Linked DNA regions of Homo sapiens. The protein of the gene in region 1 interacts with the protein of each later gene in a pairwise test. Each region holds a gene or a part of one and is shown on either strand. Other genes may lie near its edges.

Evidence for each region. The genes of interacting proteins can lie anywhere in the genome.
Region 2: the proteins of SPZ1 (region 1) and DTNB interact in binary tests that used the Homo sapiens proteins (3 or more experiments, as listed by UniProt).

The regions. Positions count from the first base shown.
Region 1 is NC_000005.10:80,315,198-80,322,523, forward strand, and holds SPZ1 (spermatogenic leucine zipper protein 1), read left to right. Parts: upstream 1-4,804; 5' UTR 4,805-5,018; coding exon 5,019-6,311; 3' UTR 6,312-6,645; downstream 6,646-7,326. UniProt on the Homo sapiens protein: Transcription factor that binds to the DNA sequence 5'-CANNTG-3'(E box) and the G-box motif. May play an important role in the regulation of cell proliferation and differentiation during spermatogenesis.
Region 2 is NC_000002.12:25,670,426-25,678,584, reverse strand, and holds the start of DTNB (dystrobrevin beta), read left to right. Parts: upstream 1-5,007; 5' UTR 5,008-5,199; intron 5,200-8,159.

The sequences.
Region 1 (7,326 bases):
GGTCCAGTTCTTGGGCTGACCCACCCCAAAACTCCATGAGAACATGACCCACCAGGGCCAATCAGTGCCTTCCTTGGCACTTTTGCTATAACTATAGTGAAAGATAAATTTGTTTTCCTCTGGGATTGTTCAATTTCTAGGATATAAACCTGGAGCTACCTGATACCACCATGTAGAGAAAGAATCCTAAGAATGAAGGCACAGAGAGAGACAACTCAGAAATGGTGAGGTCCAGCCCTAATTGTATAACCTCAGCCCCTGAAACTAGGTATGTCAGAAACCATAGGTTTCTTGTTTAACTTAACCATGTTAAGCATGAGTCATTGATACTCTCAACCTTCCACCCTTTCTGCCTCAGTTTATTTGGCTTAAGCCAGTTGGAGTTTAGTCTCTGTCACTTGGTACCAAAAGAGTCATGAATGAGCTCTTCCTTTCTCCACCATCGTGGTGTGTGCTTGACTCCGCTTCTCACCATGTCTTCTCACAAGACTTTCAGGATTAAGTGATTCCTGGCTAAGAAACAAAAGCAAAATCGTCCCATTCCCCGGTGGATTCGGATGAAAACTGGTAATAAAATCACGTACAACTCCAAAAGGAGACACTGGAGAAGAACCAAGCTGGGTCTATAAGGAATTGCACATGAGACGGCACACATATTTATGCTGTCTGAAGTTCACAATCACATTACCATATCAAGCTGAAAATGTCACCACTATCTGGAGAGTTGGACGTTTTATTGGGAATATATTTTTTCTCTCTGAATCTGTTATGAACTTGTTGGTTGGCTGGGTTGAGTAATAAATATGTGAGACCTTTCATTTAAAAAAGAATAATGAATGAAACATTCTATATTTTATTCTTTTAATTAATTTATTTTTGAGACAGGGTTTCACTCCTGTCTCTGAGGCTGCAGTGTAATGGTGTGATCTCGGCTCACTGAGGTCTCTACTTCCTGGGTTCAAGTGACCCTCCCACATCAGCCTCTCGAGTAGCTGGGGCTACAAGCACACACCACCACACCCAGCTAATTTTTTGTATTTTTAGTAGAGAAGGAGTTTCACCAAGCTGTGCAGCCTGGTCTCGAACTTCTGAGCTCAAGTGATGAGCCTGCCTTGGCCTCCCAAAGTGCTGGGATTACAGTCGTGAGCCACTGTGCCCAGACTACATTCTACATTTTGATACTCACTTTGAAATTCAAATGTATTAAAGGAGAACATTGATTTTATATTTTTGTAAAGGCAATCTTGTTTTTTCTTTTTTTGAGACGGAGTCTCGCTCAGTCGCCCAGGCTGGAGTGCAGTGGCACGATCTCGGCTCACTGCAAGCTCCGCCTCCTGGGTTCACGCCATTCTCCTGCCTCAGCCTCCCGAGTAGCTGAAGGCAATCTTGTTTTAAAGAGAGAAAAATTTGGGCCAGACACAGTGGCTCATGCCTGTAATCCCAACACTTTGAGAGGCTGAGGCAGGAGGACTAGATGAGCCGAGGAGTTTGAGACCAGCCAGGGCAACATAGTGAGATCCCCATCTCTACAAAACAAACCAGAACTAGCTAGGCGTGGTGGTGCATGCCTGTAGTCCCAGCTACTCAGGAGGCTGAGGCAGGAGGATTGCTTGAGCCTTGGAGTCTGAGGCTGTAGGTGAGCCGTGATTGCCCCACTGCACTCCAGCCTGGGCTACAGAGCAAGACACTGCCCCCACCCCAGAAACAGAAAATGAAAGAAAAATTTGACACAAATTGTCACCTTAACAATTTTAGAAACAGTTTTTTGCAGTTTTTTTTTTCTTTTCTTCTTCTTCTTCTTCTTTTTTTTTTTGACAGGGTCTCATTCTGTCACCCGGGCTGGAGTGCAGTGGCATGCTTACGGCTTACTGCAGCCTCAACCTTCCGGGCTCACACCATCCTCCCACCTCAGCCTCCCAGGTAGCTGGGACTATAAACACGCGCCACCATGCCTGGCTAATTTTTGTATTTTTAGTAGAGACGGGGGTTTCACCATGTTTCCCAGGCTGGTCTTGAACTCCTGGGCTCAAGTGATCCTCCCAGCTCAGCCTCCCAGAGTGGCATGAGCCACGATGCCCAGCCAATTTTTTCTTTCTTGAGTCATTAAGCTATGTGAAACTTAGTGGATAGAAATTGTAAAACAGTCCAAATGTGTTTAACCTCCATGGTTATCCACTGGGGAATATGGGTCAATAGAGACAAGAGGACCACTCTTGTTTCTCAAAATCTATTTACCTTTCAGTTCCTAACGTAAACACATTCCAACAAAATTAACAACTGTTAATTGGAATTCATTCTAGTTGTAGGGGAAAGGAAATATTTAAATCCTTTTCAGATTTTGTTTTTGTTTTTGTTTTTTTCTTTCTTTCTTTTTTTTTTTTTTGAGATGGAGTTTCACTCTTGTTGCCCACACTGGAGTGCAGTGGTGCAATCTTGGCTCACTGCAACCTCCACCTCCTGGGTTCAAGCGATTCTCCTTCTTCAGCCTCCCGAGTAGCTGGGATTACAGGTGCATGCCACATGCCCGGCTAATTTTTTTTTTTTTAAGTAGAGACGGGGCTTCACCCTGTTGGCCAGGCTGGTCTCGAATTCTTGATCTCAGGTGATCCGCCCACCTCAGCCTCCCAAAGTGTTAGGATTACAGATGTGAGCCACCATGCCTGGCTCTTTTCAGATTAAAGAAAAAAATTATCTTCGTATCTTGACCATGCTACCTTCAAACCAGTTTTCATAAAAAAAAAAATCAAGACAAGAGCAATATTAGATTTATGTCTGACAGCATTAAAAAGCTGCAAGCACAAGAGGATGGAGAATACATTTTCTTTTTAATATCTAGGGAACATACATGAACACTGATAATCTATTAGGCCAGAAAGAAAATATCAATTTCAAAAGGTAGAAACATTACAGACATTTTCTGAATATAGTATGATAAAGCTAGAAATTAATTATCAAAAATTCCCCTGTGCTGGAGATTAAGAAATTGTCTTAAATGATGCTTGAGTCAAAGGGGGAAATAAGAACCAATGCTGAACTTCTAAGATGGAATTAAAGCATAAGGACAGTTGCTAGCATCTATGCTGTCATTGTGTGAATTAGAAAAGGAGTTCCTTTTTCAAGTAAAAGCAGAGACCAACCCTGCTGTATCTGTGAGTAGTCAGTGACGATGGCCTGGAGCCCAGCTGGCTGAAAGATGAGCATGAGGCTCTGGGGAATTAGAGCCAAAATGAGTTGGTAACTGGAGAAGAAAGAAAACATATAAATTTCTCTTCTCTAGGGGAAAAAAAACCTGAGTATGAGTTTTCCCTTAAGACTGGAAGCAAATTTCTATTAAAGTGCTTGCTAGCAAGATTTTGAAGGCCAGGAAAAAGTCATACACAAGAAATGTTTCTTTGATTGAGTTCTATATTCACAAGACCTGACTCCTAAGAACAAAAAGACAAGAAAGCAGCTTATTAAAATGCAAGAAGTTTAATAAACTTGTTACTTTCTATAACCCACTAGAGAATTTACCTGTTTCAAATGCTTTTTATTTTTTAATTTTTAATTTCTTTTTTTGAGGCAGTGTCTTGTTCTGTCACCCAGGCTGGAGTGCACTGGCACGATCTCAGCTCACTGCAACCTCCTCCTCCTGGGTTCAAGCAAGTCTCATGCCTCAGCCTTCTGAGTAGCTGGGATTACAGGTGTGTGCTGCCATGCCCAGCTAATTTTTGCATTTTTAGTAGAGATGGGGTTTTGTCATGTTGCCCAGGCTGATCCTGAACTCCTGGCCTCAAGTGATCTGCCCGCCTTAGCCTCCCAAAGTGCTGGGATTACAGGCATGAGCCACTGCACCTGGCCAATTTTTTAATTTTTTGTGATAGATCTTGCTGTGTTGCCCAAACTGGAGTGCACTAAGTAGCACAGTCATGGCTCACTGCAGCCTCAACCTCCCAGGCTCAAGTGATCCTCTCGCCTCAGCCTCCCAAGTAGCTGGGACCACAGGCACACACTACCATGCCCTTCTAATCAAACACTTTAGAAATATAACTATGTCATTTTAACAAGTTACTGTGTAGAGTGTGGAAATCTTAGGGGATCAATAAAAGAGCCAAAAAAAAAATCCCCAAATAAGTTACTGTGAAAAGTAATAGTCAAAGTTTTCTATCACCTGATGTAAATGATTTGTGAGTAAGCTTGCCAAGCCTGTCTTAAAGGATGCCTATATTCAAAGCCAAGAAAAGTCCCAGTTTGTAATTGTGTTGCTATTATAACCATTCAGATAGTCCCTTCTTGGAGCAGTAGAATATTTTTGAATGGAGGGACTCCTGACATTACTTTCCTAAAATCACAAAAGGCTGTCACTCTCAGGGTTTTGTTTTGTGTGGATAACTTTCTCTTACAGTCACATCTCTCCTAGAATGGGAGCAATAGAGCCTCTAGGTGCTATGAAAGGATGGGGACCTCACCAGAGAGGACTGGTCTCAGCAATGTCCTTAAGTGGTCAAAACATGCTGCGGTTGAGGTCAGGATTGTGAGGGGATAGAGGTGACGTAGAGAAGTAACTGAGTGCATTTAGACTGAGATGAATAGCAACCTAGAAATTAAGGAGGGGAAGAGCTATTGTAGAGCTCTTTCTGGCATGAGGAGTAGGGATAGCTCAAGGTTGGTTTTGATGCAGGAGTCACTGGGCAGGAATTTAAGAGGCTTCCATTGTGACACAAAGGAGACAGACACTATGGATAGGCCACAATGGTGCAGTGACAAAATAAAGACCTGGTTGCTAGGGCCAGAGAATAAACACCGGGTGCCTAGAGGAGAAGAGATGGAGCCCCAGCCTTGGTCCCCTTTCCCACCCTTCCTCCCCACAAGGCTGTCTGAGATGCCACCTTCCACCTAAACATCATCTCCCAAATTTTAATCCTTAACTTTGGTCTCTGACTTCTGCTTGATTCCACAGTCTCCACCCACATTTGCACAAAGGACCATCACCTGTCCTTCCTGGAATCTCTAAAGTTTTCTGCTTTCCTTCTGTCCTGATGGCCAGCTCTGCTAAGTCAGCTGAGATGCCCACCATCTCCAAAACCGTTAACCCTACTCCTGATCCTCATCAAGAATATCTGGACCCTAGGATTACCATTGCCTTATTCGAAATTGGATCACATTCCCCTTCCTCCTGGGGCTCTCTCCCTTTCCTAAAGAATAGCAGCCATCAAGTTACAGAACAACAGACTGCACAGAAGTTTAACAATCTCTTAAAAGAAATTAAAGATATTCTTAAAAATATGGCAGGTTTTGAAGAGAAGATCACAGAAGCAAAAGAACTTTTTGAGGAAACCAATATTACTGAGGATGTGTCAGCCCACAAAGAAAATATCAGAGGACTTGACAAAATCAATGAAATGTTATCAACAAACCTGCCTGTTAGTTTAGCCCCAGAGAAAGAAGACAATGAAAAGAAACAGGAGATGATATTGGAAACCAATATTACTGAGGATGTGTCAGCCCACAAAGAAAATATCAGAGGACTTGACAAAATCAATGAAATGTTATCAACAAACCTGCCTGTTAGTTTAGCCCCAGAGAAAGAAGACAATGAAAAGAAACAGCAGATGATAATGGAAAACCAGAACTCTGAGAACACCGCACAAGTTTTTGCAAGAGATTTGGTAAATCGTTTAGAAGAAAAAAAAGTCCTTAACGAAACTCAACAAAGTCAGGAAAAAGCAAAAAACAGACTTAATGTTCAAGAAGAAACTATGAAAATTAGGAACAACATGGAGCAGTTACTACAGGAAGCAGAACACTGGAGTAAACAACATACTGAGCTCAGTAAACTGATAAAATCCTATCAGAAATCTCAGAAAGACATAAGTGAAACTCTTGGAAATAATGGAGTCGGTTTCCAAACCCAGCCAAATAATGAAGTGTCGGCTAAGCATGAGCTGGAGGAACAGGTGAAGAAACTGAGCCATGACACCTATTCATTGCAGTTGATGGCAGCTTTGCTAGAGAATGAATGCCAAATCTTACAGCAGAGAGTAGAGATTCTCAAGGAACTCCATCATCAGAAACAGGGAACTCTGCAAGAGAAGCCAATTCAGATAAACTATAAACAGGACAAGAAAAATCAGAAGCCATCAGAAGCAAAGAAAGTAGAAATGTATAAGCAGAACAAGCAAGCAATGAAGGGTACATTTTGGAAAAAAGACAGATCCTGTAGAAGCCTGGATGTTTGTCTTAATAAGAAAGCTTGCAATACCCAGTTCAATATTCATGTTGCAAGAAAAGCTCTTAGGGGAAAAATGAGGTCAGCTAGCAGCCTAAGATAGAAAATACCAAAAGCAGATGAAAAGGTGAATCCTTAAAAAACTACATCTGTTACCTCCAACTTGTCAGTCATGATCAATCATCAAACCTTGGGCAGATCTGCTGGTTCAACCAAGAAAGAGCTATAGAATAAGGAGATTGACACTTATATTACTCATTACTTCAGCAGTTATGTAAGTCTGGTCTTTAATGACCATTGTGTCTACATCAAGTTCATAACTTTTCACCTTTACAATCTGCTTGTTTTTTTTGTAATTATTAGATAGACAGCCTAGAGTGAGAAGTTAAAGGTCCAATTAAGTAAAGATCTAAATAAAAACCAGAATACAAGGGAAATTTTTTTTTTCTTTATTTAATCATTGCCTGGGGGCAGGGGGAGTTCTGGGGGGAAAAAGTATATAGTGTTTTTGGCCAGGTGCAGTGGCATTTTGGGAGGCCAAGGTGGGAGGATCGCTCGAGGCCAGGAGTTTGAGACAAACCTGAGCAACACAGCAAGATCCCATCTCTAAAAAAAAAATTAAGTGAAAAAAAAGTACATAATGCTTTAGTTGTGACCTTTTAAAGCTCCCTTTCTAAATGTATGTTTCCTTTTCCTATTATACACTGAAGTGTGGGATGTGGGGGAATTTAAAAAATGCTGATAATCCAACCCTAACAAATCATTTTTCTCTTATAAATCTGCACTGGCTCTACTTTTCCTAAGGTGCCTCCCTTGCTCCTCTGCTAGTGAACTGTGGGCATACGGGGCAGCAGAGGCCCTTGGGAAGGACCCCCTCAACTTGTTTGGAAGAATAGAGACATATCTGAATTTTATTTTATTTTATTTTATATTTTATTTTATTATTTATTTATTTTATTTTATTTTTGTATTGTATTGTATTGTATTGTGTTATATATTTTTGAGGTGGAGTTTTGCTCTTGTTGCCCAGGCTGGAGTGCAATGGCACGATCTCAGCTCACTGCAACCTTCACCTCCCAGGTTCAGGCGATTCTCTTGCCTCAGCCTCCTGAGTTGCA
Region 2 (8,159 bases), on another chromosome or scaffold:
TGTAAATATAATTTTATTGGAACATAGCCACGCCCACTTATTGACATATCATGTATGGTTGCTTATGTGCTACAGTAGCAGGCTGGTGTAGTTAGACTACCAAACCTAAAATGTTTACTATCAGATGCTTTAGAAAAATTTGCTGACCCTGCTCTACTAGATGCTTAAGATGGGCTTGCATGTGCAGTATTCTTTGAGTTGTGCATTTTGTAAACAGTTCTTTTTTATCGACTAGATGTTTTAAAAACAGCATGAATGGATGGATATAAAATCCTTGGCTTGCATCTTTGTTCCTTAAGTTTCCAGAAAATGCTGAAAATGCTGTATCACTACTGCCTTGCTTGTTTGTTGTTCTTGAGACGGGTGATGCCAACTATTTTGGCTACCAGACTCCATAATAAACCACCTACCCTAAAAAGAATGGCTTCAAGTAAGAACCATTTTAATTATAATTTCACAGTCTTTGGAGTTAGGAATTTGGGTAGGGCTTGGCTGGATGATTCTTCTGTTCCCTGTGGCTTCAACTGAGGTCACTCAGTGGTATTCTGCTGATGTAGGGCTTTCATGACGATTTCACTCATACCAGCAAGAATCAGCTAGGTCCTCTCCTTCTCCATGTAGGACCTTTCTGGGGAGTTACATATTTTACATAGCAGCTTGGGGCTTTAAGAATAAGTGTTCTGGCCAGGCACGGTGGCTCACGCCTGTAATCTCAGCACCTTTGGAGGCTGAGGCGGGTGGCATGAGGTCAGGAGTTCAAGACCAGCCTGGCCAATATGGTGAAACCCCGTCTCTACTAAAAATACAAAAATTAGCCAGGTGTGGTGGTGGGTACCTGTAGTCCCAGCTACTCGGGAGGCGGAGGCAGGAGAATCGCTTGAAACCGGAAGGCAGAGGTTGCAGTGAGCAGAGATCGTGCCACTGCACTCCAGCCTGGGTGAAAGAGTGAAAGTCCATCTCAAAAAAAAAAAAAAAAAAAAAAAAAAAGTGTTCCCAAAGACCAAAGACCCAAACTCAAGTGGACACTTAAAGACTTTTTGTGAACTGGGATTAGAAATCCCAGAATATTGCATGTTCTATTGGCCGAGCAATTCAGTAAGGCCATCCTGGATGGAGAGGAATGATAAAAAAAAAAATTGGCAGCCACGTTTAAAGTCCCGCAGCCCAATTTTCTTTTCTTTCTTTTTTTTTTTTTTTGAGGCAGATTTTCGCTCTTGTTGCCCAAGCTGGAGTGCAATGGCGCAATATCGGCTCACTGCAACCTCCGCCTCCCGGGTTCAAGCGATTCTCCTGCCTCAGCCTCCCGAGTAGCTGGGATCACAGGCGTGCACCACCACACCCGGCTAATTTTGTGCATTTTTAGGAGAAACAGGGTTTCACCATGTTAGCCAGGCTGGTCTCGAACTCCTGACCTCAGGTGATCTGCCCACCTCAGCCTCCCAAAGTGCTGGGATTACAGGTTTGAGCCACCGCACCTGGCCTGCAGTCCAATTTTCTTACCCTTTTAAACAATTTGAACTTTGTACCTGCAGACCTTGAAGATTATTATTATTATCAGTTTAACACTGTAAATAGCATAGCTCTCAGAGTTCAGCCTCTGGCAATTTTCCCAGGTAAATGTAGGCCTTATAGGTTTATATCTTATTTTCAGAAAGATTCTTAGATTATAGCTTCGACATATGTAGCACCCCAGTGACACATATGTTGGATATTCTTTGCTTGTATTCAAATGACATTCCAAAAAGAGACAGAAACAAGCACAAAGGTGTGGAGCCAAGGGGAAGTGGAAACATTCCAGGAGTTTGTATGGTGTGTGTGGAGGAAGCAATAGACGATGGATTGGAGAGAATGGGCAAGGGCTAGATTAAGGGAAGTGCTAGACAGTGACACCAGGGGTGGTAAATTTTTGAAAGCTTTCTCTAATCTGCAGCATGGAAGATGGATTGGAAGCAGCAAGACTGGCAGGGAGACCACATAAAAAGCTGCTGCATGGCCAGGCGCAGTGGCTCACGCCTGTAATCCCAGTACTTTGGGAGGCCAAGGCAGGTGGGGATCACTTGAGGCCAGGAGTTTGAGACCAGGCTGGTCCACATGGTGAAACCCCGTCTCTAACTAAAAATATAAAAATTAGCCAGGCATGATGATGGGCATCTGTAATCCCAGCTACTCAGGAGGCTGAGGCAGGAGAATCGCGTGAACCTGGGAGGCGGAGGTTGCAGTGAGCCAAGATCGTGCCACTGCACTCCAGCCTGGGTGACAGAGCGAGACTCCGTCCCAGAACAAACAAACAAAGCTGCTGCATTAGTTTAGGGGAGGTGGGCTAAGAGGGAAAGATTCTAGTTATTTATTTATGAGGAAGCATCAATGGGACTTAGTGGTTGTTGGGTATGGAGTCAGGGCAGAGGGGTGGTGGGAGAAGAAGGAATCAAGAATGGCCCCCCAGTTTCTGAATTGGTCAACTGGGTGGACAGTAGTTTAGACATGTAGAACGTGGGGTACCTCTAGGACACCCAGGTGGAGAAGTCTGGCGGGCTTTTGTGAATAAGGAACCCAGATGAGTGGCCTGAGCTAGAGAGAGTGCACTTGGGAGTTGCTGATATGCGGTAGATAAAGAAGCGGAGTGGATGGAATGGTCCAGGGAGAATGTGTGGCGTGAGACCAGCTGAGGAGAGAATCTGTGAAACTGAGAAGTGGTCACAGGGGTTAAGACAGGAGTCATGCCATGACACCAAGGGAGTTTCAGAAAGAGTGGGCTACTCTGTTCAATGTCACTGAGAGTTCTAACAATATGAGGACTCAGAGATGGCTTGTGGTATTTAGGATCCAACAAGCCATTCATGACTGAGAGCAATGCAGTGATGTGGTGTGGACAGAAACTACATAGGTTTGAGGAGCTGAGGAGCTGCTGAGGAGGTAGAGATGAGGGTAGATGACTTTCAAGATATTTATGAAGGAAAACTCAGAGAGGGACTAGTAACTGAAGCAGAATCTAGAGGGACAGCGAAAGGGTTTCTTCCTTTTTCTTGAGGACAGGAAAAGCTTAAACATGAATAGATGATGAAGGAAAGAGACAAGTAAAGAGAAGTTGGTAATTTTGGAGTGAGAGGGGGAGAATGATTGAAAGGTGTTTGAAAAGTTTTCTGAGGATGTGGGAGGTGAAGAAATAGAGAACAGAGATGGAGAGATGCCAATACAGTGTCCTTGAAGTATTTAATTCCCTTATGGTTTAGGATTGTCTAGTCCACATATTGAAATTACCTTGGTTTCAATCAATAAACCGAACATATCAAGCGATATTTACACATTTATTTTATATTATTTACACATCTTTTCTCCAAAGAACAGAATCAATGTTTTACCCCTCTCAATGCCTTCCACATAGGGGGTGCTCAAAAAGGGCAAATAAAGAAGCTAGAGGTCTCTTACCTGTATTCTGAGTATCTTAATATGTACAAAACATAGCCAAGACCGTGCCTACAAGAGATAAGTCTCCTCAAGCATGAAAATATTCACACACTTCATATATGTAAGGTAAAAGGTAAAATGTCCATCTTTATTTATTTATTTTGAGACGGAGTCTCACTCTCTTGCCCAGACTTGGAGTACAGTGGTGCGATCTCGACTCACTGCAACCTCTGCCTCCTAGGTTCAGGCGATTCTCCTGCCTCAGCCTCCCAAGTAGCTGGGATTACGGCGTACACCACCACGCCCGGCTAATTTTTGTATTTTTAGTAGAGACAGAGTTTCGCCATGTTGGCCAGGCTGGTCTCGAACCCCTGACCTCAAGTGATCCGTCTGCCTCAGCCTCCCAAAGTGCTGGGATTACAGGCGTGAGCCTCCGCGGCAGGCCAGAAAATGCTCATCTTTTGAGGAACCTATTTGTTCCCATTTAACAAAGTTGGTTATCAGCATTTCCTTCACCATAGGAGTTTAAAAATAAAAAGAGGAGAGGAGGAGGAAGAGGGTGTTCTAAAGGCAGGCAGGCAGGCAGGCAGGCAGCAGCAGGAGGTGGCACGATCTGCCTTACCGTAAGGTGCCAAAAAGCAGTGAAAACCATACTCCCAGCATGCAGGCCTGGGGTCGCTTAGCTCTGGAGCTTACAGCCTTCATCATTGACCAATAGCCCCCAAAGGACGTTGCTGTTTTGAGTCTTAAGTAACGTTGAGAATGACCATTTGAACCATTCAAAAAGTCCTTGCTATATTCTAATTTGGCACCATCTCCTGTATTTCACAGTTTGGAAAGAATTCTATAAAAGATGGATAACAGTAAAACACAAAAAAGCTGGTGCTGAGATGGTAAACCTGGCTGCCCCGGCTCCTTTGCCCAAACTGTTTTCCCAGCCCTAATGTCCTCCCTTTTTCCTCCTAGGACTTCTTTTTCTTCCTTCGAGGTTGACCATAAATGCCGCCTCTAGCCCTCTGCGGCGTCCAAGCAGAAGTCGTCTCTAGCTTCTGTGCCAGCATCGCACCGTGGCTTGGCTCTGCACGGGTCATCGGACTTGGTTGTGTACATGGCTGTTTTCCCCGCTAAGTTTGGGGCGCCTCGAGCCCAGGCGCCGTGACCGTGATCGTGCGCCCACAGGCACCTGGTGCAGCGCGGGGCGCACGCCGCGGCTGGGCTAGCTTGCGGAGTTCACGGGGGTCACTCGGGCACAGGCTTGTGACCCAGGCGCGGAGAATGATTCACGGGGTGGCTCTTTGCATTCTTTGTCGGGTAGTCACGTCGGGCCGGGCACCCCGCCGACGGATACCTGCGGATGGAAAGACACCCGGCCCGACGCCAGCGAGCGGGAGAAGCCTGGATGGAGCCAGCTTCCCGCCTGCCCGGAACCCGCCGGCGACCGGTGGGCGGGGCGCGGCCGCGGGGGCGGGGTGGAGGGGGGTTGCTCGGCCGCTCCCGCCCCCTCCCCGCGCGCGGAAGCCACGCCCCCGGCCGCGCGCTCGCGCTGGGCGCGCGCCCGCCCATCCGCCCTCCGCCCTCCGCCCTCGCGCCCTCGCGCCGGGGGCGGGCGCTGCGCGTGCCGGGCGGAGAAGCGGCGCGAGCCGGGCGCTGCGAACGTTCGCCGCGGGGGTGGCTCCGGGGCCTGAGTAGGCGCTGCCGCTGCCTCAGCCGAGGGGGCTGGGCCGGAGCGTGCGGAGGAGTGAGGCCGCAGGAGACCTTCCCGACGACCCCTGCTCCGGCGGGGAAGTGAGCAAGGTGGGGGTCTGCGGCCGCCGCCGGGGCTGTGGGGAGACGAGCTGGGCTGGAGCCTCGCGCCCGCGAGGTGCGGGACGGCAGCTCGCGCTGCGCCGGGACTGGGGACCCGGGAGCCTGCGGGTGCGGCGCTGCAGGAGTCGGGGAGGGCGCGGGGAGCCGGGGCCGCTGCACCGCGCGCGGCTGCGAGGTGGGACGGCGCGGCTAGCCCCGGAGGGACAGGCAGAGGGGATGCGGCGGATCCCGGGCCGGGAGGGGTATCGGGGTCCGGAACGCGCCGGGGCACGGGCGCGAGCGGGGGCCCGGCGCCGGGCTGATGCTGCCCGAGCCCGGCTCGCCTGGAGGCGGCTCTGCGTTAGGTGCTGAAGGGGCGAGTGAGGCAGGTCCTGGCAGAGGGCAGGTGAGGCGGGCAGGCCCTGGCAGAGGGAAGGGTATTTATTTCAGATCACCCCAAATCACTGTTTCCCGAGGCGCCTAATAGCGAACCTGTCCAGGAGGTCACCCTGGACAGGAAAGAAGTGTCCCGAGACGAGGATGCCGGTGACGAATACTTGCCCTTAAATTCCTGTGCCAGGCCTTGGGATTAGGAAGACCTTCCAGCTACCGTAGGTAGAGACCCGTAGTCAGCACTGGGGCCACGAAATAGTATGGAACACCGTCATGTTATTGAGGTGCTGACAGTGTGGCTGTGAAGATATGCACATGAAATACAAAGGAGCGTCGAATTTTATGTCGCATGCCCTATTTACTTTCGGTCTCTTTTGTCTTTTCCCAGTATTGGGAAATTGGAGCCATAAATTGCGTGGTTTTGGGGATAAAGCAGAAAGGTCAAAAGAAGCCTATGGGAGAAATTTGGGAGAGTTTTGAAGGCTCCTACGGGTAACATTTAAAGGGGGCTCTTAGATGGGGAAAAAAGACGTTTGGAAAGAAAGGAAGTTTCCTTCCTTCCCATCTAGAAATAAGCTCCATGACTATTGACTGCTAAATCTTCAGAATGTTGCCTGGCTCACAGCGGTTGAGCCATAAGTGTCTATTGCATGAATGAATGGACAAGCAAGGTTTGGCCACATTTGCCATGGAGCAGTGTCAGTCACTCTAGTGTTAGGGAAGGTTGCTGGATTTCTCCTGTTCCACAAGTTCTCTCTCTCTGCCTCTTTTTTTTTTTTTTTTTTTTTTTTTTTTTTTGCTATGCGAGGCAACCCCGGTTCTGAGGTCTGGGCACGTTAAAGCAATGGCTAAGGCGGCGAGGTCTTGGTTTCTGTGGCCATGCTACCACTTTCCCATGTGTCTTTCATGTTGGCCTTCAAGAGCTTGCTCCTTGGCCTGTTGCTTGAGATCATCCCATTTTGTTCCTTCTCCCATTGGCTTTTTCTATTACTTGAGAAGGAAGAGGGTAGTGTTGTCTAGAGAACACTTTTTCATTTTGGTCCTGGTTCTTGGGTCTTAGACCTGTAGTGCGAGGCTGTTGGTGCCTCTGCTTTTCTGTAAGGGCTGGAATTCTACCTGTGCTCTGCCTTGGTTGAATCTCTGAACTCTGGAGCTCCAGGCTGCTGTTTCAGTAACCTGGGTTGCAGTGCCTGTTGGGTTACTTTGTCTGCCAAATTAAAACTTGACCTTTTATGAGTTCTCTAAGGATTTTTATCATGCATAAGTGGAATTGCCTTTGAAAGGGGTTGTGCAGTCAAGGTAGTGCTGGCAGAGTTTTTGGATGTCCACTATGCCCGAGAGACAAATTTCTACCTATGGTTAGAAAATTAGACTCAGAACCAAGAGAATTTCAACTTATTGTTTATTTTATGTCTTTATGTTACTCTCTCAGGGCCTTAGTTTCTTCGTGTGAAAAATAAGTAATAATCAAAATCTGGCATTGTATAGGAAGCCTTGAAGAAGTAAATTTATTTCTCCTGTTTCAGGGCTGTACAGCCAGCAGGTCTCTTGTTGAGAGGTGCCTAGGTTCTACAATATTGGGTGCCTTATTCCAGGCTCTCTCAATGATATTTTGTTTATGTATTTATTTTAAAACCAACTTTTTGACGTATAGTTGACAAAATAAAATGCACAGATTTCCCGTGTGCGGTTGGATGAGTTTTGGAAAAATGTGTACAGTAGTCCCCCCATTAGCCTCAGGGATATGTTCCAAGAGCACCAGTGGATGCCTGAAGCCACAGTTAATTCCAAACCCTATATAGACTGTTTTTTCCCTATACTTAAGTATCTATGATAAAGTTTTAACTTATAAATTAGTTGCCATGAGAGATTAATGACTTCTCTTAGGCATATGTTTGGCTTCTCTGTGGCATATCCCAATTGCCAGCATCACTACTCTTGCACTTTATTATTAAGTAAAACAGTGGTCACTTGAACACAAGCACTGTGATACCATGACAGTCAATCTGATCATTGAGACAGCTACTAAGTGAGTAACCAGAAGGTGGCTTATGCAGTGTGGATATGCTGGAGAAAGGGATAGTTCATATCCCAGGTGGGACAGAGTGGGATGGCACAAAATTTCGTCACGCTATTCAGAATGGTACACAACTTAAAACTTACAAATTGTTTATTTCTGAGGGGAGACTGCTGTATACTTTGTAACCACCATTCCAATCAAGAAATTTCCATCACCCCAGAATGTTCCCTTATGCTGGTTTGCAGTCCATTCTCTATCTTCCCTACTCCCTTTTATTGATTTCGAATTACACGAGCATCAGAGCTGTGGCACCTAGTTGTGTAGATTGTATTCTGCCCAGCTTTAGGGAGCACCATTCACATTGGAGTCCTTGTGCCTGGCAGCTGCTGGAGTTGTGTAGTGCACACTCTGTGTGACTGTGTGCTGCAACTCTGCAGGTGGCTCAGAACACACACTCACTTGTCAGATACTCAAACAGTACAGACAGAATAAAGGCCCCCTTGACCTACTCACGGAAACAAGTTATCAGTTTTTGTGGTCTTTCCAGACTATTCTC